Linked DNA regions of Homo sapiens. The protein of the gene in region 4 interacts with the protein of the main gene of each other region in a pairwise test. Each region holds a gene or a part of one and is shown on either strand. Other genes may lie near its edges.

Region 1 (4,817 bases), on a different chromosome or scaffold from region 4:
AATCTAATCACCAACCATCTCTAGCTAGAACAGCATCTCAAGCTACCCGCTGAAGCTAAGATGGACTGTCTGCAAACAGTGTCCTCTGCAAGCCCTCCAGGCCTGAGTCCCTGTGAGCCTCGCCCTCCACCCCCACCCAGCTTCCCCACGTCCCTGTGCTGCCCAGGCCTCCTGGTCCACACCTGGCCTCCCGTCCCCACAGCCTCGTCATGCCCTCTACTGCACAAAGACCCTCAGGGCCTCCGCCTCTCCCCTGACTGCGCTCTCAGTGACACCAGCCCTTCACCTGCTGCTTTCTACCTGGAGGCGCTTATTGCCCTGGGTCACAAACCTCAGGGCAGGGGCCACATTGGGGTCCCACTGACCAGGGCTGACCCCAGACCTCTCTTCACACAGCCAGCTGGAGGCCCCTCATTCAACTCCTAGTCACAGTGGCTGCCCTATGTCCCGCTCAGCACCACGTACACACTGCGCTCCACCCAAGTCCACATCATTCTGGGCAAGTCAGCGTCCAACAGCCTGGCCCTCCAGCCCCAGACCTTGTCCTCCTTGGTGACAGCCTTCACCCAAGGGCTCTCTCATGCTCTCCAGGGCCACCTACTAGAACTGCCCCACCTACAGCTGCCCCACTCCTCCTCACTCAGGCCACTGTCAGCTCACTCTGTACAAATGTGAGCCCCCGACCCAAACACTCTACAGGCTCCTTAATGGCCCCTCCTGCCTTTGTTTCTTCCCTACACACTTGTGCTTTAAGCAATCACCTAACTCCCCCTGCCCCGTTATCGCAGTGCTGCATGCGTGCACATGCATACACACACACACACACACACACGCATACACACAAGCACATGCACGCACACGCGCGCGCGCGCACACACACACACACACACACACACACACACACCAAAATCCTCCCTTGCTTCAGTGCCATGCACAAGGTCCAGAGGGAATGTAGACACTTGGGAACGACCTCTGAAAATAACACCCATTGCCCCAAACATCCTCGACTTCCTCAACTGGGTCCTTGAGACACTCAACAACCACCTGTGTGGCTCCGCCAGGACCAACCTCACTTCGAACCCGCTGCTCTGTCAGTACCAGGAAGTCCAGGCTCCCGTCCCTCGTCTCTCACGCTCCCAGCACACCCTCACTGTGGCCCACGATCCACCTCCTCAACACCTGCGCCCCTGTGCCTGCCGTGATCGGCAGGCCCTCTCTGTCCCGCCTTGCTCTCCAGGACACAGCTTCCCCACAGCCCTCAGCTGCAGCTGCTGCTCCTCCCACCGGCCTCTTGTCACGGGCCCAGAGGGAAGGTCAGTAATTTCCTTATGCTTGCTTCGGCTTCCAGATCACTCTCCCTAAAAACTGCCAACTTTAAATCTTGTCACCCTCGACCCCATCATTGCTGCCATCAGCTGCCAACCCATGGTCCCACCCAGTCCTCCTGGACCCGCCACTCTCACCAACGGTGCTCCTGTCTTACTTGTGATTTCAAGTATTGAGAAATGATCCTTCCAAAATCCTGGCCTTGGGTCCCTGAACCCTGCTGGGATGATCCCACCTCCCACACTCGACGCCCACTCCCAGGGGCACCCCTGTCACTACCACTAACAGCAAGCTCCAACCTCAAATCCAAGCGCCCCACTCCTTTACCACCACTATCTATATTCCCAGCTCACCGCCCTAGGACCTGACTCCAACAATCCTTCTATCCATCCGGCACCTTCAGCCTCTCAATCCTAATGCCTCCTCCTGACCTTCACCCCGAGGGCTCCTCCCTCACTCACTGGCATAAATCCCACATTGGTCATGACCGTGGCGCTTCCACATACTCCTACTCCTTCCCTTCTCTCTCGGTGCACTTGCTTGGCACAGCCGAGCCCTGTTTAATACAGCCTGTGCCCCCCAGTGCCTGTAGGTGTAGCCAACTGCAGCTGCAGAACAGGCCCCGCCACACCATCTTCTGTCTCTTTACGCCCAAGTCCACCAGATGCTGCCCTGAAGTCAGCTGTCAGCCACGGCCTCCGCCCAGGCACTATGGGCAGGCAGCCCATCCTCCTTTGTGGTGGAGACTGTCCTGTGCATTGTAGGAGGTTCAGCAACTGCCCTGCCCTAACCCCTCCCCTTCATCAGAACACCAGAAAATGTCTCCAGATCATGGCCCAGTGTCCCCAAAGTAGGATCACCCCTAGAGGAAAACCTCTGCTCCAGTCTCTTCACTAGCCCACTCTCGTGCACAGCGACTTCACCCAGCCCCTCTCTCCTCTGACACTCCTCTTCCCCCAGACCCTCTTACGGCTCATGAGAAAAATAAGTACCAGAAAATCACCTTAAGAATCTGCATCACACCATGTGCCGACTCCACCTCCGCGCCCGTTCCCACACCCACACGGGGACTCTGCTCCACCAAACCCCTGTCCCACGTCGCCTACGTCATCAATTTCCCCTTTCCACTGGATCATTCCCGTCATTAGAAAAATAATAACTCCCCTTGACACCACCTTTCCCACTTTCTAGTCTTATTCCTTCCCTTCTCTTTGTGGCAAAACTCCTAGAAAAACACATCTACTCCTGCCTCCAATCCCTGCCTCTTATTTGATCTGAAACCCACTCTGATCCATCCTATCTGTTGTTTGTCTTTATATTGCTTATGACTTTATTTTTTTTTTTGAGATAGTCTCACTCTGTCGCCCAGGCTGGAGTACAGCAGTGCAATCTCAGCTCATTATAACCTCCACCTCCCAGGTTCAAGTGATTCTTCTGCCTCAGCCTCCTGAGTAGCTGGGACTACAGGCACACGCCACCACGCCCAGCTAACTTTTGTATTTTTAGTAGAGACGGGGGTTTCACCACATTGGCCAGGCTGGTCTCAAACTCCTGACCTCAAGCCATCCGCCCGCCTCGGCCTCCCAAAATGTTGGGATTACAGGCGTGAACCACCAGGCCCAGCCTGCTTATAACATTTTGATCACCTTCTATTTTTAATTTTTCTGCAATTAAGCCCCTAATTTTTTTCCCCTATTTTTTCCTAATTCCCCTATTGTTTTCACGCTTAGAAAGTCTTCAATCTAGGGGTCAGAGAAATGCAGTCCAACATTTTCCCATAGATGTGAAGATGTATTTTACATGTATGCATGGTTTTTCTCTTTCATCCATCTGACATGTCTGTTGGCCTATGGTGTGAGGCGAGGGCCTACCCTCACTTTTTGTTCCTCAATAGCATGTTTCCAGCACCATGTGCTGCTTCCCTCCCCCTTCTCTTAGCGGAGGCACCATGCCCACTGGAGAACACACTGTGTGGCTGGAACTGCCCTGCTGAGCCAGCCTTACCTATCCATTTGTAGCGCCTCCATGCTGTCTTGCCGTTTGACCCGGGGAGGGGCTGGTCTTGCACTCCCAGGCCGAGGAATTCTTCTAAACCCAAATATTGGAAAACCAAAAAAGGAGTATGAAAGGCTTATACATTTCAAACTGGAAAAGAAAGCCCAGGTGAATGTTAACTCTCATCTCCAAGCCATAATCAATGTGCTGGTTAGGACACGCTACTCTGCAGAAGAGGAGGAACGTCCCAGTAACCCGACCAATCAGAAAGTGTCCATCTTTCCACTTGTATTTTCAGTAATTTCAAAATACCAACAACTGTCACTAATCAAAACATCACATAATTCAGCTATAATTTTGAATTCCCCTAAATCTCCAAAATATTATATCACTATATAGTGATATAACTCCAGTACAGAAAACTGATATACTTCTTGTATTCTTTGTATAAGTAATTCCTCATAAGTTAGCTCAAGCACTAAATAAATAGCAGCAGCCAGAAAGAGAAGCACAGCAGTGTCCTAGGTGTGATCACTCTGCTGAGGGAAAGGGATTCAAAGCACACAGACCTGATGTTGGATGAAAGCTCATTAGGAATTTCTGGAGTCTCTGGCACCTCAGACTTATCTTGGCCAGCAGGTCCAGCATCTCCTTCTAAACAAATGACAATCAATTAGCAATTCACAAAGGAAAACACACATAGATAACTATTTGAAAATACTATTTGCATCTGTATTTGCAGTTATTTGCAATCAAATACATTTGTAATTGCAAATACAAATGAGCAATTTTTCCATCAATCATGTTGATGAAGAGAAAATCGATGTCTGATATCTAAACTCAGTGAAGATTTGGGAAAATGGGCACACTCAAACCCAGGGAATACAAACTGGTTCAACTACTTCAGAAATAAAATTCAAAAGGCAGGCTGATCAACTGAGCACTTAAAGGAAATACAACCCAAGAGGAGAAATGGACACATGTCAAGATGTTCACCCATCGTCACTGGTAATACTGACAATCAATCAGTAACTAAGTAAATTATGGTACAGTCACATGTCAGCTCCCTTTTGTGTGAAACAATCCAGTACAGTAATATATCTAACAATTATATACATATGCATATATATATATACAGGGTTCTAGAAGAATATTCATTTAAGTTATAAGCAGTAGAATTACCAGTGCTTTTAATTTTTGTTCTTTTTTTTTTGCATTTTTAAATTTTTCTACATTGGTATACCATATTATGTTTATAATCTGAACAAAGTTTTCTTCATTTTGATAAAAAGAATTAATCAGTAAATAACAAGGCCTAAACTATTAAGACAAGTTTACTCCACTATTTAAAGTAAAAGGAATTAACACTTCAGAAAATAGTCAGAATTTGAATATTAGAAATATACTTTATATTCTGGAAAAAAATCCTGAAATGTATTGTTTTCAAACTTAAAACATATAAATTAAATTTCAAATTAAATTAGGGTAGTTGGCCA
Region 2 (6,138 bases), on a different chromosome or scaffold from region 4:
GAGCACTTCATTGTCATGATAGGGAAGTGCTGTGGCATCTAGTGGGTAAAGGCCAGGGATGCTGCTAAACATGTTACGATGCACTAGACAGTCCCCCACAATAAAAATTATCCAGCTCAAAATGTCAACGGTGTTAAGGTAGAGAAAATCTGATAGATACATAAAATATTTCTATTATTGTTCATATATAAATAATTAGAAATTCCTATTATTTTTTTTCTTCAGAATCATGATTTATTTAGAAATGTGTTTCTTAATGGCTATCTTTTGGTTAGTAGATTTCAGGTAAATTGCATTGTGGTTAGAGGATATGGTCTGTGTGACTCTGATCCTTTGAAATGTGTTAAGGCTTGTTTCATGGTCTTATACATGGTTCATTTTATAAAGGTTGTACGTTTACTTACAAAGAACGTGCCCCTTTGATCAGGTTTGTTAATCATAGTCAATTTTTATACATCTATTTGATTTTTAAAATCTATTCTATCAATTACTGACAATGGTATGTTAAAATCACCCACCGTGGTTAAAAATATTTTATATATTTGAGGCTATGTTCTCAAGTGCATATAAAAATCTTATGTATTTCTTCTGAAGTAAGACTTTGCTCATCATAAGTGCTCATCATAAAGTGACATATATATATATATATACATATACATATATTTGCTGTTAACAAAGTCTCTTCGTTTTTGTCTGAACATATTTTTAATTCACCCCCCTTCTTGAGAGACATTTTCATGTTAAGAAGGTATTAAATTTGAAAGTTACTTTCTCTCAGCACATTGGACATGTTGTCAATATCTCCTGATTTTTTTTCATTGTTTTCTGCCTTTTTGTTGCTGATTAACATTCATTGTGGATGTATCTTAGTGGTCATTTCTTTTTATTTACTCTGAAATGTGTTGGGTTGTTGAATCTGTAGATTGGCATTGTTCATCAAATTGGAAAAGTTGTCAACCGTTATCACTTTAGATATTGTCTTAGCCTTTCAGACCTTTTTATTTACTCTTTTGTGTCTTTTAAGCTCTATATCATATTTTCCATCTCTTTGTCTCTCTAAGATATACTGTGGATAAATTTCTTTGATTCATAATCTAGTTTACTAATTCTCTGTTCAGACGTCTGTAATCTGGTGGTTAAACCACCTACTAAATTTTACATTTCAATTATTATATTTTCAATTTCCAGGCATTCTATTTGGGCCATTTTTCAAATCTGTTTGCTCTTTCTTTATAGTTTCTTATTCCCTGCATGTTTAAGTTTAAAAATGACTGCATTTCTGCATTTTAAAGCTTATTTCTGACAACTTTAGAGCATACAAGCATAGTTATTTATAGTTTGTGCCTGGTAATTTCATTATCTGAATCCTTTCTGGGTCTGTTTATTCTGTTTTGTGGATTCTTTTGATTTTTTTTCTTGGTGCCTTTTTTCATTACGGATTAAGTTATTTACTTTTTTTTTAATTGTAGGCTGCTCATTTTCCTTGGATTTCACTTGTGATAATTCTTTGAGGACTGGAATATAGGTGCAGAAGATACATAAATGTACTTTTCCCAAGTGTTTTGGAATACTACCAGTTTGGGATCATTCTAAATTAAGTTCTTTGCTTGAGATCTTAAGAACTATTCAGTTAATGTGAGTATGGGCTGTAAATTAGTGTGATACTTGTATTAGACTGTGATTCTACATTCTCAGGGATCATTTTTCCTCTATCACCTGCTCAATACTGAAGTTTAAAAAATGCAAGCCTTTTTTTTTTTTTTAGAAAAAAATTCCCTCTCCCTGCGCTGCCTCCTCTGTGTATGCATGTGTAGTGCACAGCTCTTCGGGTGGCCCAGCTTTATGGTGGAAAGATCTTCTGTGAGACTACTCATCCTGAGTAGGCCTGTTCCCTTTTTCCTATGAGGCCATGGAAAGCAAAGTTCAATTTCACCCCATGAGTTAAATATCCTCAGGACAAGAGCTAGCTGCTGCACTCTCCTTATCTTTTTGAGTTCTTATCTACATTTAGTTATTGGTCTTAAGAATGTCTTACATTCTTACTAGCTCATCACTATATTGCAGGTTTAAAAAATACTTAATCAAGGATTTATGGTTGTTTTGATGGATGGTCAGTATAGATATGTAGCCTGTCCATTGCTGAAACAGAAGTCTATTCATATATTCTGAAAAGACAGATAAGTCTGCCAAAGAAGTTGACATCATCATAAATGATATGGCATACTTGAAATAGTATTCAAATATAGTCTGAATGGTTATGCACTCAGGTAGTTGGTAATATGGATATATTTTGTATTTTTCTTTTCAATTTTTAAATTAAAGTTTAAATTAAAATTGTCTAAGTATAAATGCAGTATTTCTTATAAAAGGTGTTCTTCCATACTTACAATGTAGTCTTTCACTGAGATCATTAAGGGACTCTAGGATCTTCTGTTCTTCAGCTGACAGTGTGCAGATGTTGAATTGTTGAGTTTTATTTAAAGGTAGATTTGATTTCTGTATCTGTTTGCTATTCAAGACAGTCAGAATCTCATCCTCCGGCACTGATGCTTTCACTAAGTTTTCAGCCATCAAAAACTCAGAAGTACTATCTGAAACTACAGAAACTTACATCAGTTATTCTTTGAACCCCTTTTGTCTTTGAGATCAGCCCTTATATATACTTACATATACTTATACATGCTTAACTGTCTGTATGTATTCATATTACAAGCAGAAACCTAGCAAATATCTGCTACTTTGATTTCATTTATCAGGATCCTCTATCTAGCATTTTCCTATCCTTCGTTTTTTAAAAAAGGATATTCAAAATGACGGCAGTGAGTTAATAAAAATTCCCAGAGTATTACTTGAACTAAAGAAAAAAACTATATAATGCAGATAGTTTTTGTCATGTTTGTTATTCATTGGTAGTACAAAAAAGATGAAGAAGACTGTCTTTATAATAGTAGTTATAATGAATTATAACAAAGTAAGACCAAAAAACCCTTAAGATTAGAAACTTTGATGATCAGCTAAACAGAACTGACAGCCTAGAAACAGACCCAATTAGATATAAGAACATGTGATCAAAGAAGCATCAAATATTTGACAGAAGGGAAAGATGATTTTACATATTAGTTTTTGCTTATAAAAGAATCAATTTGGGCTGGGTGCAGTGGCTCATGCCTCTAATCCCAGCACCTTGGAAGGCTGAGGCAGGTGAATCACTTGAGGTCAGGAGTTCAAGACCAGCATGGCCAACATGGTGAAACCTCGTCTGTACTAAAAATACAAAAATTAGCCAGGTGTTATTGTGGGTGCTTATAATCCCAGCTACTTGGGAGGCTCAGGCAGGAGAATCACTTGAACCCAGGAGGTGGAGGTTGCAGTGAGCTGAGATTGTGCTACTGTGCTCCAGCCTGGAGCTCTGTCTCAAAAAAAAAAAAAAAAAAAAGAAATCAATTCAGAGTTTTACTTCCCACTGTTTGTTTAAACAAATTCGTAAGAAATTAAAGACAAACTTAAGGAATCAACCCATTAATTAAAGCAGAAGAAAATGAAACAAATGTTTCTAAATGTCTGTATTGGGAAGGTTCTTTGACAAAGCTTAAAAGTAATGGAGACATCAGTAAGAAAAGACTAAATAAAACATGTTTATTTAAAGCCAGTCTTCCCTAATAGACTTTACACTTCTGAAGAGCAACACTTTTGTATATTTTTTTCATTATTGTAAATGTTAAGTATTCCTTGTCCAAAATGCTTGGGACTAGATATGTTTCAGGTTTTGGACTTTTTTAGAATTTTGGATATTTGCATACACATGAGATATGTTGGTGATGAGACCTAGGTTTAAACATGAAACTCAGCTGGATGCGGTGGCTCATGCCTGTAATCCCAGCATTTTGGGAGGCCGAAGTGGGTGGATCACCTGAGGTCAGGAGTTCAAGACCAGCCTGGCCAACATGGTGAAGCCTCATCTCAACTAAAAATACAAAAATTACCCAGGTATGGTGGCATACGCCTGTCATCCCAGCTACTTGGGAGGCTGATGCAGGAGAATTGCTTGAACTTGAGAGGCGGAGGTTGCAATGAACCAAGATTGCACCATTGCACTTCAGCCTAGGTGACAGAGTGAGACTCTGCTTAAAAAAAAAAAAAAAGAAACTCATTTATGTTTCATATATACCTTATACACATACCTGAAGGTAATTTTATATAATATTTTAAATAATTTTGTCCATGAAATGAAGTTGGTGTATATTGAACCATCAGAAAGCAAAGATATCACTGTATCAGCAACCTATGTGGATTATCTGTGGTTGTTTGGTATCACTGTTATTCCTGACTCCAAATTTATATCTACTGAAAAGCAATAATGTTCTTACACCTATTCACACGTAAGTACTTAACAGTAAAAAATAAGATGTATCCTTCACACTGTCAGAAAATAATGTGTTCAGGGCAACTAAGCACCACAGTAACATCACCAGAATACCTGTGTCGGCTGTTCAACAACAGCAACAAGGAACAATGGCAGGCTTCCAATCTTAGGTATTATGTTACATTTTGACCAGATGGTTACTGTACACTGTATTTTATTTTTTTAGGTGAGAAGAAACATCAGAAGCAGCTGAGGCACAAGGAAGTGGGTCCTCTAGGGATGAGGAAATATTCTGCTAGATGACCTTAAAAAATGTTTCTTCCAGAGACTTTTGCCTCATTTACAATGTCTTTTTTTGTCCTATAAGCCTCTCTTTGATTTTATAAACTGACATAATTTCTTGTTGTTATGAGTGTACACTGCTCTAGTCGTTCAATAAACCCATCACACATTTTCATCATATTGTCAATTGGCACCTTTTTCTTTTTCAGTGTTAACAATGCCATTATCATCACTATTATCACAATCATCTTAATTCAGAGCTCTTTTGGCTATTTCATCATTGGTCAATGAAAACACCTGGAGTCTTATTATCGATGTTAATAACCTCTTTGATATCCACTTCTTCCAGCTTACTGATAGACTCTGAAGGTATATTTTTTTGCTTACGTAATGAGGTCAGACATAATTTTTTCTCACTTGACATACAGAATCCTTCAGTCACTACCTTGTTCATCATCACTGAACATAGTTGCAGGCCAGAGGTTGTGCCAGGAATGCACAATTGTGTCTTTAGTCCCTGTGTTCCAAGTGTTTGCAACAGCATGTATGGCATCTTTCATGCTAAACTCGTTTTGAAAACCTTCTACATCCACATCTCTGTTCACTGTTGCTGGCATGCTGTTCAAGAAAGTGTTTATATGTATTTACTCTTCATCTACCTAACGATAGTCTGGTCACACAGCTGAATTAATGAAGTAATATTTGGGGGAAAGCACGTGGCATAAAGATTATTTTTGATGAGAATTTCAGCTGGAGGATGAAAAGAACAGTTGTCAAAGAATAACAAAATCTTGCAGTCATCATTCAATCCAGCTTCCCTGATATAAAGTGTTTGTGAAACCAATCAGAAAAGATGTCCCTGGTGATCCATGTCCTTTTGTTAGCACATTAATGGACTGGTAAGAAATTCACTCCTTGAAATCAGTGAGGACACAAGCTTTTGCCTATCATAGCAAATTTACACTTGGGCGTGACTGAGTCATTAGCACATCCTAGCAGTTATTCTGTTATTCTTAATTCTTGTAGGGGCTGTCTCATCAGCTATAGTCAATGTTTTTTTGAGTAACAACACCAAACCAGTGATGTTCATCAGTAACATATACTTCTTCTGGTGTCAGATATTCATCAGCGATGACCTTGGCAAACTCTTCAATGAATTTCTCTGCTGCTTTGTAATCAGCAGACGCTTGATCACCACAAATCTTTAAAAATAATGCTGTGTCTTAAATTTCTATAACCAGCCTGTTGAATATTCATGGTTCTCTTCAATTTTCAGTTCATCATGATAGATCTTTGCTTGTTTCATGATCAGCATACCATTAAGTGGCATGTGCTCATGCGACGCTGATGGATCCACTCTTTGACTTCATGGTTGAAATCCTATGCAGTGTTTAATGTTTTGCATTAACTTCTGTTCATCTCTTCCAAAGCAGAACTTCAACAGTTTATCCTTCTGTTTCTTCAGGTCATATATTGTGGTCATTCCAACACCA
Region 3 (6,138 bases), on a different chromosome or scaffold from region 4:
AAAGGATACCTCTCCGTGTACCGACATACAATACTATACACAGCACCAAAAGTATCACACCACCAAGCGCTGTCTCACGCCAGTGGTGTGCGCTCGGCGTCATACCCAGCATGAAATGAGCACGCTTCACATGCAGACGTGGCACTGGGCGAACAGGTAACCAACATGTCACAATTCACCAGAGCTGCCGCCAGCCCATCCGGCCCCTGGATGAACACGCTACCACAAGGGCTCCAGCCAGAATGTGTGTCCCTTACTGCTGGTAATTTCCATACTGGCCCTAAAAGAGATCAAGACACAGATTACACCCCTATAGTAATGAGTGAAAGGAAGACAGACGTCCACCCCAGCCCGGACAGGGGGTAGGAGGGACAACAGCAAGCAAACAACCTCTGCTCACATCTCTGCGGGGCAGCGAACGACTTTCCAGAAGCCACTGGCCAAGCCTGGGGCTAACAACGTAGACAGGGCCAAAGGTTCATTTGTTCAGTCACACACTGGCATCGCTGCGGCCGGGCCTGTGCCAGGCCTGGCATCAGAGCCTTATGCTGGGCCTGCTATGCAGGAAGGCTCTCCTCCAAGCTGGCCCCACTGGGAGCCAATGCAAACACCATCTGCCCCCGAGCCTGCTACAGTAAGAAAATGGGAGCGGGGACGACCAGGGTGATGGGTTTCAATCTATAAAAAAAAATCTAAAGACCCAGGCTGGGCAACATGGCCAGACTCCATCTCTACAAAAATCCAAATATTAGCTGGGTGTGGTGGCGTGTGCCAATAGTCCCAGATACTTGGAGGGTGAGGTGGGAGGATCGCTTGAGCCCAGGAGGTCAAGGCTGCAGTGAGCCGTGATTGCACCACTGCACTCTAGTCTGGGTGAGACCCTGTTTCAAAAACAAATCTGAATTTGGGAGGCCGAGGCAGGAGGACTGCTTGAGCCCAGGAGTTTGAGACCAGCCTGGGCAGTACAGCAAGACCCCATCTCTACAAAAAAAGAGAAAAAATTAGCCTCGGCCAGGCACAGTGGCTCACGCCTGCAATCCCAGCACTTTGGGAGGCCGAGGTGGGTGGATCATTTGAGGTCAGGAGTTCAAGACCAGCCTGGCCAACATGGTGAAACCCCATCTCTACTAAAAATACAAAAAAAAAAATTAGCCAGGTGGTAGTGGCACGTGCCTGTAATCCCAGCTACTTGGGAGGCTGAGGCAGGAGAATCACTGGGCCTGAGAGGTGGAGGTTGCAGTGAACCGAGATCATGCCACTGTATTCCAGTGTGGGTGACAGAGTGAGACCTTGTCTCAAAAAAAAAAAAAAAAAAAAAAAGAATAAGCCACATGTTGTGGCGCATGCCCCGGAGGTTGAGGCTGCGGTGAGCCATGTTCCTGCCAATGCACTCCAGCCTGGGCGACAGAGTGAGACCCTGTCTTAAAAAAAAAAAAAAAAAAAAAGGCCAGGCACAGTGGCTCATGCCTGTAGGATTACAGTCCCAGCACTTTGGAAGGATCACCTGAGGTCAGGAGCTCGAGACCACCCTGGCCAACATGGCGAAACCCTGTCTCTACTAAAAATACAAAAATTAGCCAGGTGTGATAGTACGTGCTTGTAATCCCAGCTACTCCGGATGCTGAGGCAGGAGAATTGCTAGAACCCGAGAGGCAGAGGCTGCAGTGAGCGAGATCGTGCCACTGCACTCCAGCCTGGGCAACAGAGCAAGACTCCATCTCAAAAACAACAACAAAAAACAACATGAAGAAGAGAAACTAGAGAGCCTGTGCCCCACAAGGCCACAAGGCAGAATTCCTTGGGCAGCAAAACGGAGCATCGGACCTGTGGTGAAAGCCACTCGGGAGACTGCCACAGGGGAAGACAACGGATCATCATCTGCATGCCTGTTCTCCATGTGTCCCCAGCTAGTTAATGATCAGATTTCCCGAATGCCCCCAGCGAGGAAGTGGGGGAGGGAGGAAAGCTGTTCCAGCCTGACCGAACACGTCACATTCTCATTCCCAGAGCTGCCTGTGATGATTCTAGTTAGTGGGAGTCTGTTCTGATGTCTTTCTGCTCCTGCACCATTGGGTAAGACGGAAAGCCTCAAATCCAGAGCTGCTCAGCTGAAGGCATGGCAGCCCTGGAGCCCTATAAAACCACTGGCAGCCCCAATGCCTCAGCACCTTTTTTTTTTTTTTGAGACAGAGTTTCGCTCTTGTTGCCCATGCTGGAATACAATGGCGCGATCTCAGCTCACTGCAACCTCCGTCTCTATCTGCTCCCGCCCGCCTCTGCTTTCCAAAGTGCTATAGGCGTGAGCCACAGCGCCTGGCCGCCTCAGCACATGTTTAAGTGTAGCCCAGTGGTTCTCAAACGGAGACAGTTTTGCCCCTGGGGCATCTGACAATGTCTGGAGTCATTTTAAATTGTCAGACTGGGCAATGGGGGTGCTACTGGCATCGTGGTGGAGGCCAGGGGTGCTGCAAACATAACACAGTGTGCACAATGGCCCCTAGGAGACGCCCAGCGCCGGCAGTGCTGTGCCAAAGCGCCACGGCCAGCTACACTGGATGCTGACTAAAGGCTATCTTAATATTTTGCAGTTAGATGGACACATTTCCCCCCAGATGTGAAATTCTATTCTCTATCTTCCCCATTGCTCTGTGTCTTTTTCTTTTTTTTGAGATGGAGTCTCTCTGTCGCCCAGGCTGGGGTGCAGTGGCGTGATCTCAACTCACCTCTGCCTTCCCGGTTCAAGCGATTCTCCCACCTCAGCTTCCCCAATAGCTGGGCTTACAGGCACCCGGCTAATTTTTGTATTTTTAGCAGAGATGGGGTTTCACCATGTTGGCCAGGCTGCTCTCCAACTCCTGACTGCAGGTGATCTACCCGCCTCAGCCTCCCAAAGTGCTGGAATTACAGGTGTAAGCCCCCACGCCTGGCCTTTCTTTTTCCTTTTTTTAAGACAAAGTCTCGCTCTCTGTAGCCCAGGCTGGAGTGTAATGGTGCAATCACGACTCACTACAGCCTCGACCTCCTGGGCTCAAGGGATCCTCGTGCCTCAGCCTTCCAAGTAGCTGGGATTACAGGCATGCACCACCATGCCTGACTACTTTATTTTTTGTAGAGACAGGTCTTGCTATGTTACCCTGGCTGGTCTCAAACTCCTGGGCTCTAGTGATCCTCCTGCCTTGGCCTCCCAAAGTGCTGGGATTACAGGCATGGGCCACCACGACCGGTCACGGTCTTTTCATAGGTAGGTATAAAGTTATATGTCCTCTGGTTCAGTCTTATAATTAAGTTAGGACATTCACTTATTTCACAAAATCCAAATAAGTTATTTTCAGGACTGTATGAAGGAGGTATGGCGTCTCATCAGAATCATTCACATATAATTCTAATTTAACATCAGGATGCAGACTGCTGTCCTTCCAGACTCCAGCATGACACTCCTGTGCAAACCTGGAGGGCCAAGCTGGGGCCTGCTCCCCGCTGACCAGCGCCCAGCACACACTGGGGAGAGGCGGCCCCTGCGTCGGCTACAGTGGCCTCACAGTGTCCTGAGAGCACACCAGAGCCCTCCTGACATCTGTGTAAATGCCTCATCAGCGTGCCCTTCCCAGGCATGGCCGAGTACGGTGCCCTGGCAGGGAGACTGTGTTACATGGTCTTTAGGCTTCTCTACATCTACCTGGTGACCCTTTGCCCTCTTGAAGAAGGAGGACGAGAAGCATTTAAAAAACAGTCTTTGGCCTCTTACCTACCCAATTCCCTGAGAAAAACAAACTTGAGCGATGTAGTGCTTTGAAATTTCACTGGCAGTGTAAAGTGTCCCTAACACCTCCAGCCACCTCAGAGTCACCAACACAGAGCCACTTCCTGCTAAGGACTCTCTCAAAGGAGGCTCCAAAAAATGTCCCAGACCATTCTCCTTCATATGCCCTGTGCTCCAGCCACCGAGCCTCCTTCAGGCTGCCTTCACTGGGACAAACCTCCTGGTGCCTCAGGACCTTGGCACGCCCTCTTCCCTTGCCTGGCTCATTCTCCTCTAGGAGGCCCTCGCTCCTGCAGTGCTCCCACCACACAGACCCTGTCCTCCTCCAGGGGCCCCATCCCACTCAGAGGGAAAGCGATGTCTGCTTTATGGAGGCCCCTACGCCCACCTGTCCCTGTCACCTCCCGCCACACCGGCCTCCTCACTGTCCCGAGAGCTCCCGCTCTTCCATCTTCCAAGCTGCTCTTTCCTCAGCTCCTTCAAAGCCCTGCTCACTGTTCCTGGGCAGAAAGGGCTTCCCCCTCCCTAGGCTGAGCCTGGGGCTGCCAGCCACTCCCCGCTGTGTCTTCGTCCTGGAATTGCCCACACGGGCCAAATGCGGTCGCCTGCGCCCCCATCTGGAAGGCGGGCTCCATTTGGGGCCCCCCGCTCTGTCCTCAGCACAGTCTGGCCCTGTGGGACCACCTTATGTCTCTGTAGCGAGACATAAGCTCTAAAAGTGCAGGGTTCGTGTCGCGGCCACACACCAAGCACTCAGCAGAGACCGGACGCGTACCCAGTACGTGACAAACACTGGCAGAGTGAATGAATGTGAGAACCAGGCGTGCAGATCTAACGGTGAGCTTAGGGTATGAAAAGCCAGCTGGATGACTGAGGTGAGCGTATACACAGAGGCAATTCTGCAAAACCTTACAGGCTCAGAGACTTAACGTTCTGGAAGGAACCCTGGAAGCCAGTTAGTTCCAGCTCATTATTCCTCATGGCCATAAGAGAAATCTTCATTATGTCTCGACAGGCGCGGCGGATGGGCACATCTGGAAACATCCAGAAAGCTTGCCTGTTCATAGCCGTAGGGCCGCTGCTGCTGGGCAGACGGCGCTGTCTGCGGTGCTCGGTAGCTTCCGTACTGCTGGCCTTGGCCTTGCTGGTAGCCGGGGTACTGTGACGGGGCTCCCTGGGCAGACCCTGAGAAGACACCAGGAACCGTGAGGCCGGCCAAAACGGACACCTCTTTCTTTTTTTTTCTTAACTTAAAAATTTTTTTTAAAACTTCCTCTTCTCCTTGAAAAATTCCCGTCTCAATGCATCAGCCTTTTGTCAATCTCCAGAACACCTGGCACCTGCACGTGGCTCCACGTTAACTCTGTACAGCGAGAGCACCACGTAACCGACTCACCAGCCCCTCCAGTCCTGTGAGGTCCCAGGACTGTGCCCCAGGCCCCCCACCAGCATGGCGAGGGCTGATGGGCTCTCTCCATCACCCCAGAACTGCTGCTACCTGAAGGCAGGACAGCCCTCCAGAACCCGCTGGCCCCAGTCACACTGGCTGCTGTAACTTGTCACTGAACTACCACGGGAGCTGCTGAAAACCTGCAGGCAGGTGAGACAGAGACATCGTCTCTAGGAAGGCTAAGTCAAAGGCTCCGGCAAGAACTGATAGAGGCCAATTTTTTTTTTTTTTTTTAGGCAGGGTGTCACTCTGTCACCCAAGCCAGGCTGGAGTGCAGTGGCGTGATCTTGGCTCACCGCAACCTCCACCTCCCAGGCTCAAGTGATTCTCCTGCCTCAGCCTCCCAAGTAGCTGGGACCACAGGAGTGTGCCACCATGCCTGGCTAATTTTTGTATTTTTTGTAGAGATGGTCTCACTATGTCATCCAGGCTGGTCTCGAACTCCTGGGCTCAAGCAATCCTCCTGCCTCAGCCTCCCAAAGTGCTGGGATTATAGACATGAGCCACCACACTGAGCCTCAAGTAATTTATTTTTTTATTTTTTGAGGAGTCGTCTCACTCTATCGCCTAGGCTGAAGTGTAGTGGTGTGATCTCGGCTCACTGCGACCTCTACCTCCTGGTTCAAGCAATTCTCCTGTCTCATCTCCTGAGTAGCTGGGACTATAGGCCCCCACCACCATGCCCAGCTAATTTTTGTATTTTTAGTAGAGACGAGGTTTCACCATATTGGTCAGGCTGGTCTTGAACCCCTGACCTCAGGTCATCCGCCCACCTCAGCCTCCCAAAGTGCTGGGATTATAGGCGTGAGCCACCACGCCTGGCCTCAAGTAATTTTTATACTATTTAATTAGTAATGGCTGTAAAGGGCTGAATAAGCACAGCAGAATCAGGCACGTGCCTCATAAGAAACCACGTGTGTGGAGCTCA
Region 4 (6,138 bases):
CGTGACGAAACCCCATCTCCACTAAAAACACAAAAATTAGTTGGGCGTGGTGACGTGCACCTGTAATTCCGGCTATTCGGGAGGCTGAGGCAGGAGAATCGCTTGAACCCAGGGGGCAGAGGTTGCAGTGAGCGTAGATCACGCCACTGCACTCCAGCCTGGGCGACACAGCAAGACTCCATCTCAAAAAGAAGAAAAAAAAAAAAACTGTTTCCAGATATAGTAATGTCCATTTCTGTAGAGGAGAATCCCTCCTGCCTGTCAGCCTGCACCAGGAAGGGCTCTGTTGTGAGCTGCCAGCTACAATCTGCACTAAAACCCAGAAAACCAACAAAGTCACAGGAGGGCAGGAATGAGTCAGTGTCTGAAACGGCATTCAGGTCTGTTCCTCATACAGGAGAGCAGGCGCTCCTGCAGGCTGCGTCCACCCAGGTGCCCTCCCGAGCTCCCAGGCACTGGCTGGACCTGCCCTGCAGCTCCTCCTTCCAATGTGTCGTCCTGGCGCTTCCTTCCCGAGTGCCCGCCACTCCAGACCCGATGCAGGTCAAGCACAGGGAGCTGCCACCTGTGGCCTCATGGCCCCTGCCATGCCTCCCAGTGCCACCCGCAGCAGCCAACTCATGCACCCACACTGCCCGGGAGGCACCCACACAGGGCCTCCCGGTGCCACCCGCAGCAGCCAACTCATGCACCCACACCGCCCGGGAGGTACCCACACAGGGCTCTCCCCACTGGGCACTGAGCCAGTGTCTCCTGCTTCAATCCATGCCAGATACAAACTTTTATAAAAAATTAACAGCCAGAAACATGGAGGAAAAAAAGACTTAAAAACACAAGCCAAAGGGGGCCGCGGCCGGTGGCTCTAATCCGTAACCCTAGCACTTTGGGAGGCTGAGGACCACTTGGGCCCAGGAGTTCAAGGATGCAGTGACCTAGGATTGCGCCACTTCACTCCTGCCTGGGCAACAGAGCAAGACCCCGCCTCAATTAAAAGAACAAAACAAAACCTCTGCAGGTACCCACTAGGTGACAGCTGGGATCCTCACAGGGCCTACCTAGTGGACTCAACGCCCCCAAGACAGAACAGCTTCCCCACCCTCTGAGGACGGCTGTGCAGGTCAACAGCCTGGGGCTGCAGCAAGTGCTCAAGGGAGACAACGCCTCCCGACAGTGACCCCAGAAAAAGTTCCAGAATAGTGACATCTTTATTCCAGAGTCAACATACTACCCTCCAGCATTAGACTACAGACTAAGGCTGGGGCTGGGCGAGGTGGCTCACACCTGTAATCTCAACACTTTGGGAGGCCTAGGCAGGAGGATTGCTTAAGCCCAGGAATTCAAGATCAGCCTGGACAACATAGTGAGACCCTGTCTCTATAAAATAGACTAGGGCCAGGTGGCCTCCAACACTGCAGGAAGTGAGTCCAGGTAGGAAAAAAGTGCCTTCCGAATTCTGGGGCCCAAGGTGCCTACCCTGCAGGGAATAGTAAACAGACACTCTCTGGACTGCGGGGGCCAAGGCCCGCCACCCAAGGCCCTTAGCAGCCGGCATATACCACCTGTGGGTGACCTTGTCTACACAGGACTTTGCTATCCATCCGCCAGGACCTGAGGGAAGAGAACTGCCGGACCCCATTCCTGCCCCTTCTGCCACCATTTCAGACACCCCACAGGGACTCATTTTGGGGGTTCCCAAATGAGTTCCCACTGACTTCCAGGAAATCCATAAGCTGCTCTATGACCCCAGCTTGGGTGACCATCTCTCCTTGCCACGCTGACCCTTTTCCCCTGACCTCACAGTGCCTCAAGCTCCAGGAATGGCTCAGAAGGGGTGCAGAGCCAGTGGTGATGGCACGGTGGGTCAAGGAGTCACCCCTGGAGGTGATGTGTCTGGCAGAGGCCTTGGGGAGCTCAAAAGGATGGCACTGGGGGTGCATGACTGTTCATGAAGCCAAAGAGAAATAAAAAGAGGCAGCAGAAGGAACTTTCTTCATGTGAGATAGTTCAAGTTCAGACTTCCTGCTAACAACATCTATTAGGACATGGGCTGGACCAACTCATCTTCCTATGGAATACCAAGACAGGAGATCCAGACAAACTCCATCATGTGCACCAAGCCCAAGCTCAAACAATCAGCTGGTGCAGCATGTCTGCTGAATGACTGTGCTGTGATGGGCTAGGACCAGCAGGCGGCCCAGGGGCCCTAGACTGCTCTGTTCACCTCCATCCAACCACATCGCTCTGCACACCAGGCACCATCTCTGTAGGCTCACCACTAACAAAGGGACCGGTACCATCTGAGGACTGCCTTTACCAACAAGACTAAAAGATTTCTTGGAAGAATATCAATTCCAGGGGTCAATGTTTCTCTTTCTCTAAACATGCCTCACATAGAGGATCTCCAGATGCAGCTGCGTCAAAGACAACCAAAATTCAAGAGACTGCTCTGGATAACCATGCAAAACCCCTTAGAGACAGGGTCTCACTCTGTCACCCAGGCTGGAATACAAAGGTGCGATCACAACTCACTGCAGCCTCGACCTCCTGGGCTCAAGCAATCCACCCACCTCAGCCTTCCAGTGTTAGGATTACTAGCCTGAGCCACCGCACCCAGTCAACTTTTCTAACAGCTCAAGTCACTCTAATTTAAATGCATGAGGAGAATATCTAGGTATTTAAAGTTCGCCACGTATTTTCACCTGAGTGATGCTTCCCTTCCTAAGGCTGACCAAGACCAGTTCATCCTTTTAAACTCAAAATAAAATGACACCAGTGAAGGCGGGAGGAGCACCCTATCAGGGTGAAGGCGGGAGGAAAACCTCATTCGAATGAAGGTAGGAGGAGCACCCATCACAAAGCCTTGCCTATCTGAGGTTCTTGTCCGTGAGGCTGAAGTCCAGGCTCTCGTAGTAGAGGAGCTCCTCCTAGAAGATCTGAAGCAGTCAAAGGAACCAAACCGACACAGGCCGTCTGCCTGCTGATCACAGTCTCTTTTAAGACACTTTCTACTTTGCATTCTGATGAACCTAGGAGTTTTGTTAAACAGATTATGCGTGTATTTATCCCTCATTTCATGCAATAACCAAAAAGAGTTATCAGGAAACCCTGTTTGTCTTTTCACCCCATGTATGAACTCTCATGTGAATGAGTCCTGCAGTAATCCATGTTAAGGGAGCCCTAATTTCAAACTGGTGCAAATGGAAAAGACTTTCCCTTTTCCTTTAAGACTAAAGACAAAATGTCCTCCTGGCCGGGCTCGGTGGCTCACGCCTCTAATCCTAGCACTTTGGGAGGCAGAGGCAGATGGATCACGAGGTCAGGAAATCAAGACCATCCTGGCTAACATGGTGAAACCCCGTCTCTACTAAAAATACAAAAAATTAGCAGGTGTGGTGGTGGGCGCCTGTGGTCCCAGCTACTCAGGAGGCTGAGGCAGGAGAATGGCGTGAACCCGGGAGGTGGAGCTTGTAGTGAGCCGAGATCGTGCCACTGCGCTCCAGCCTAGGTGACAGAGCAAGACTCCGTCTCAAAAAAAAAATGTCATTCTATACAGGTGCAACTCAATCCGTTAATAAAAACTGATGTATGCTGGAGAGAGGAAGTGAAAAGAAAAAATAGGGCTGGGTGCGGTGGTTCACGCCTGTAATCTCAGCACTCTGGGAGGCCAAGGCAGGCAGATCACCTGAAGTCACGAGTTTGAGACCATCCTGGACAACATGGTGAAACCCCATCTCTACAAAAAAAATACAAAAATTAGCCAGACACCGTGGCACACACCTGTAGTCCCAGCTACTCGGGAGGCTGAGGAACGAGGATCGCTTGAACCTGGGAGGTGGAGGCTGCAGTGAGCCGAGATTATGCCATTGCACTCCAGCCTGGGCAACAGAGCGAGGCTTCATCTCAGGAAAAAAAAGAAGAACAGAAAAGAAAAAATAACAATAAATCAATGTAAGGCCAGGCATGGTGGCTCACGCCTGTAATCTCAGCACTTTGGGAGGCCGAGGCAGGCAGATTGCTTGACCCCATCTCACCAAAAAATAAAAACATTAGCAGGGCATGGTGGCACATGCCTGTGGTCCCAGCTACTCAAGAGGCTGAGGTGGGGGAGTCGCTTGAGCCCAGGAGGTCGAGGCTGTAGTGAGCCATAACCATGCCACTGCACCCGTCTGAGCAGAAGAGCAGGACTCTGTTCAGGAGATTCTCCTGCCTCAGCCTCCTGAATAGCTGGGATTACAGGCGCGCACCACCACGCCTGGCTAATTTTTATATTTTTAGTACAGATGGGTTTTCACCATGTTAGCCAGGCTGGTCTCGAACTCCTGACCTCGTGATCTACCCACCTCGGCCTCCCAAAGTGCTGGCATTACAGGTGTGAGCCACACACCCAGCCCTGCCTGTTTTTCAAAGTGTTTATTTACCGCTGTTATTATTTAATCATAGTATATCAAACTTACAAAAAAACAGATTATAACCTTAAAACTATCTCTTTTAGCCTGGCGCAGTGGCTCACGCCTGTAATCCCAGCACTTTGGGAGTTCGAGGCGGGTGGATCACCTGAGGTCAGCAGTTCAAGACCAGCCTGGCCAACATGGTGAAACCCCGTCTCTACTAAAAATACAAAAATCGGCCGGGTGTGGTGGCAGGTGCCTGTAATCCTAGCTACTCAGGAGGCTGAGGCAGGAGAATCACTTGAACCCAGGAGGTGGAGGTTGCAGTGAGCCAAGATCACCGCACTGCACTGCAGCCTGGGCAACAAAGCAAGACTCCACCTCAAAAAAAAGGGGGGAAAAAAAAGAACTATCTTTTTTACTTGAAATTTTAATTTTTTAAACCACTAGAATTATAAAAGCAGTCCGTCCCTGAAGGCAGATTCTGTTCTGTCCACAGGGAATAAGGAAGATCCTCTTTCTCTAAAATCTCTAAAACGCTGCTCAGATGGGGTCTCATCTCCCTTCCAGCGTGACTGGCTGGCCTGAAGCATAACATCCTCAGATGCTCTAGGTGGGTCCTACACCGGAGCCATTGGTTAGTGCACACCATAACCAACTAGACTCAGCATCCCCGCCCACGGCTGCACATCAAGAAGCTTCACCATGGGCCAGGCACAGTGGCTCGTGCCTGTATTCCCAGCTGAGGCTGGGAGGAGGCTGAGGCGGGAAGATCGCTTGAGTCCAAGAGTTTGAGGCTACTGTAAGCCATGATCACGCCACTGCACTCCAACGTGGGCAACAGAACAAGACCCTGTCTCTAAACATAAAATAAAAAATAAGAAGCTTCACCCTCATCTACACAGAATTCAAATGCACAGCTGAGGCCTCCTACATGCACCCAGGGGTAGTGCCCAGGGCCTAAGAACAGGGCTGCCAGATCAGCTGCCTCTCAGACCACAGCAAGGCAGTAAACCCGGTTTCAGGCAGCAGTCAGTACTGTATTGAGAGCCTGCCCCTCACAACCACCCCAGAGGTGGGTCCAGCACCATGGTGCCAACAGGCCAGGCGCACTGGGAGCTCCTCCACTGGTGGCAAGGTGGCCTGAAGCACCAGCATCTCCTGGAGACTGGGAAACCCAGACTGCAGAGACCGCGGCCAGGAACACTCGTCCAGGTTTGTTTCTCTCTCTCTACTCGAAGCTGAAATAATAGTTTATTCCCAAGTTAGGAAAAGAACAGAACCACACAGTACGCGGTTTAGCTCCAATACATGCTTTCAAATATTTAGGTCGAGTTTTCTTCTCAATCAGCCCTGGCCACTTCAGCCCCCATGTCCTGCATGCAAACACTGCCTCCTTCAGTCCTGCCTACCCAACATCAGGAGCCAAAGAACAGAGAGCGTGCGGCCCGGCCAGGCCCGGCCTCTCCCAGAGCAGGTCATCATCTGGTACTGGCCAGGGAAGGGAGCACTTCAGACTTTTGGCTCTTCATTTTGTTAGATCACATTTTGTTTATTTTGCTTCAATTTCAGTAAAGCTGAAATTTTTAGACCTCTTATACAGAAGCTCTTAATACAAACCCTAGACTTTTTGACTCATAGGTAGAAATCCAAGCAAAACCATCTCTTCAAAGTCAGATTAATTTACAAAGACAAACACCTTGGTTTTGACAGGGTTTTCCCTGGATGGGAAGGATTATGAGCATTTTTT

Evidence for each region.
Region 1: the proteins of BRD1 (region 4) and TRAF3IP1 interact in a two-hybrid assay, tested with the Homo sapiens proteins (one large-scale study listed by IntAct).
Region 2: the proteins of BRD1 (region 4) and CEP126 interact in a two-hybrid assay, tested with the Homo sapiens proteins (one large-scale study listed by BioGRID and IntAct).
Region 3: the proteins of BRD1 (region 4) and SS18L1 interact in a two-hybrid assay, tested with the Homo sapiens proteins (one large-scale study listed by BioGRID and IntAct).

The regions. Positions count from the first base shown.
Region 1 is NC_000002.12:238,347,922-238,352,738, reverse strand, and holds part of TRAF3IP1 (TRAF3-interacting protein 1), read right to left. Parts: intron 3,976-4,817; coding exon 3,891-3,975; intron 3,415-3,890; coding exon 3,331-3,414; intron 1-3,330.
Region 2 is NC_000011.10:101,983,291-101,989,428, reverse strand, and holds part of CEP126 (centrosomal protein of 126 kDa), read right to left. Parts: intron 2,598-6,138; coding exon 2,388-2,597; intron 1-2,387. UniProt on the Homo sapiens protein: Participates in cytokinesis. Necessary for microtubules and mitotic spindle organization. Involved in primary cilium formation.
Region 3 is NC_000020.11:62,173,324-62,179,461, reverse strand, and holds part of SS18L1 (calcium-responsive transactivator), read right to left. Parts: intron 4,946-6,138; coding exon 4,818-4,945; coding exon of another isoform or gene 4,731-4,817; exon of another isoform or gene 3,144-4,730; intron 281-3,143; coding exon 254-280; 3' UTR 1-253. UniProt on the Homo sapiens protein: Transcriptional activator which is required for calcium-dependent dendritic growth and branching in cortical neurons. Recruits CREB-binding protein (CREBBP) to nuclear bodies.
Region 4 is NC_000022.11:49,815,358-49,821,495, forward strand, and holds part of BRD1 (bromodomain-containing protein 1), read right to left. Parts: intron 5,630-6,138; exon of another isoform or gene 5,477-5,629; intron 3,027-5,476; coding exon of another isoform or gene 2,865-3,026; intron 1-2,864. UniProt on the Homo sapiens protein: Scaffold subunit of various histone acetyltransferase (HAT) complexes, such as the MOZ/MORF and HBO1 complexes, that acts as a regulator of hematopoiesis.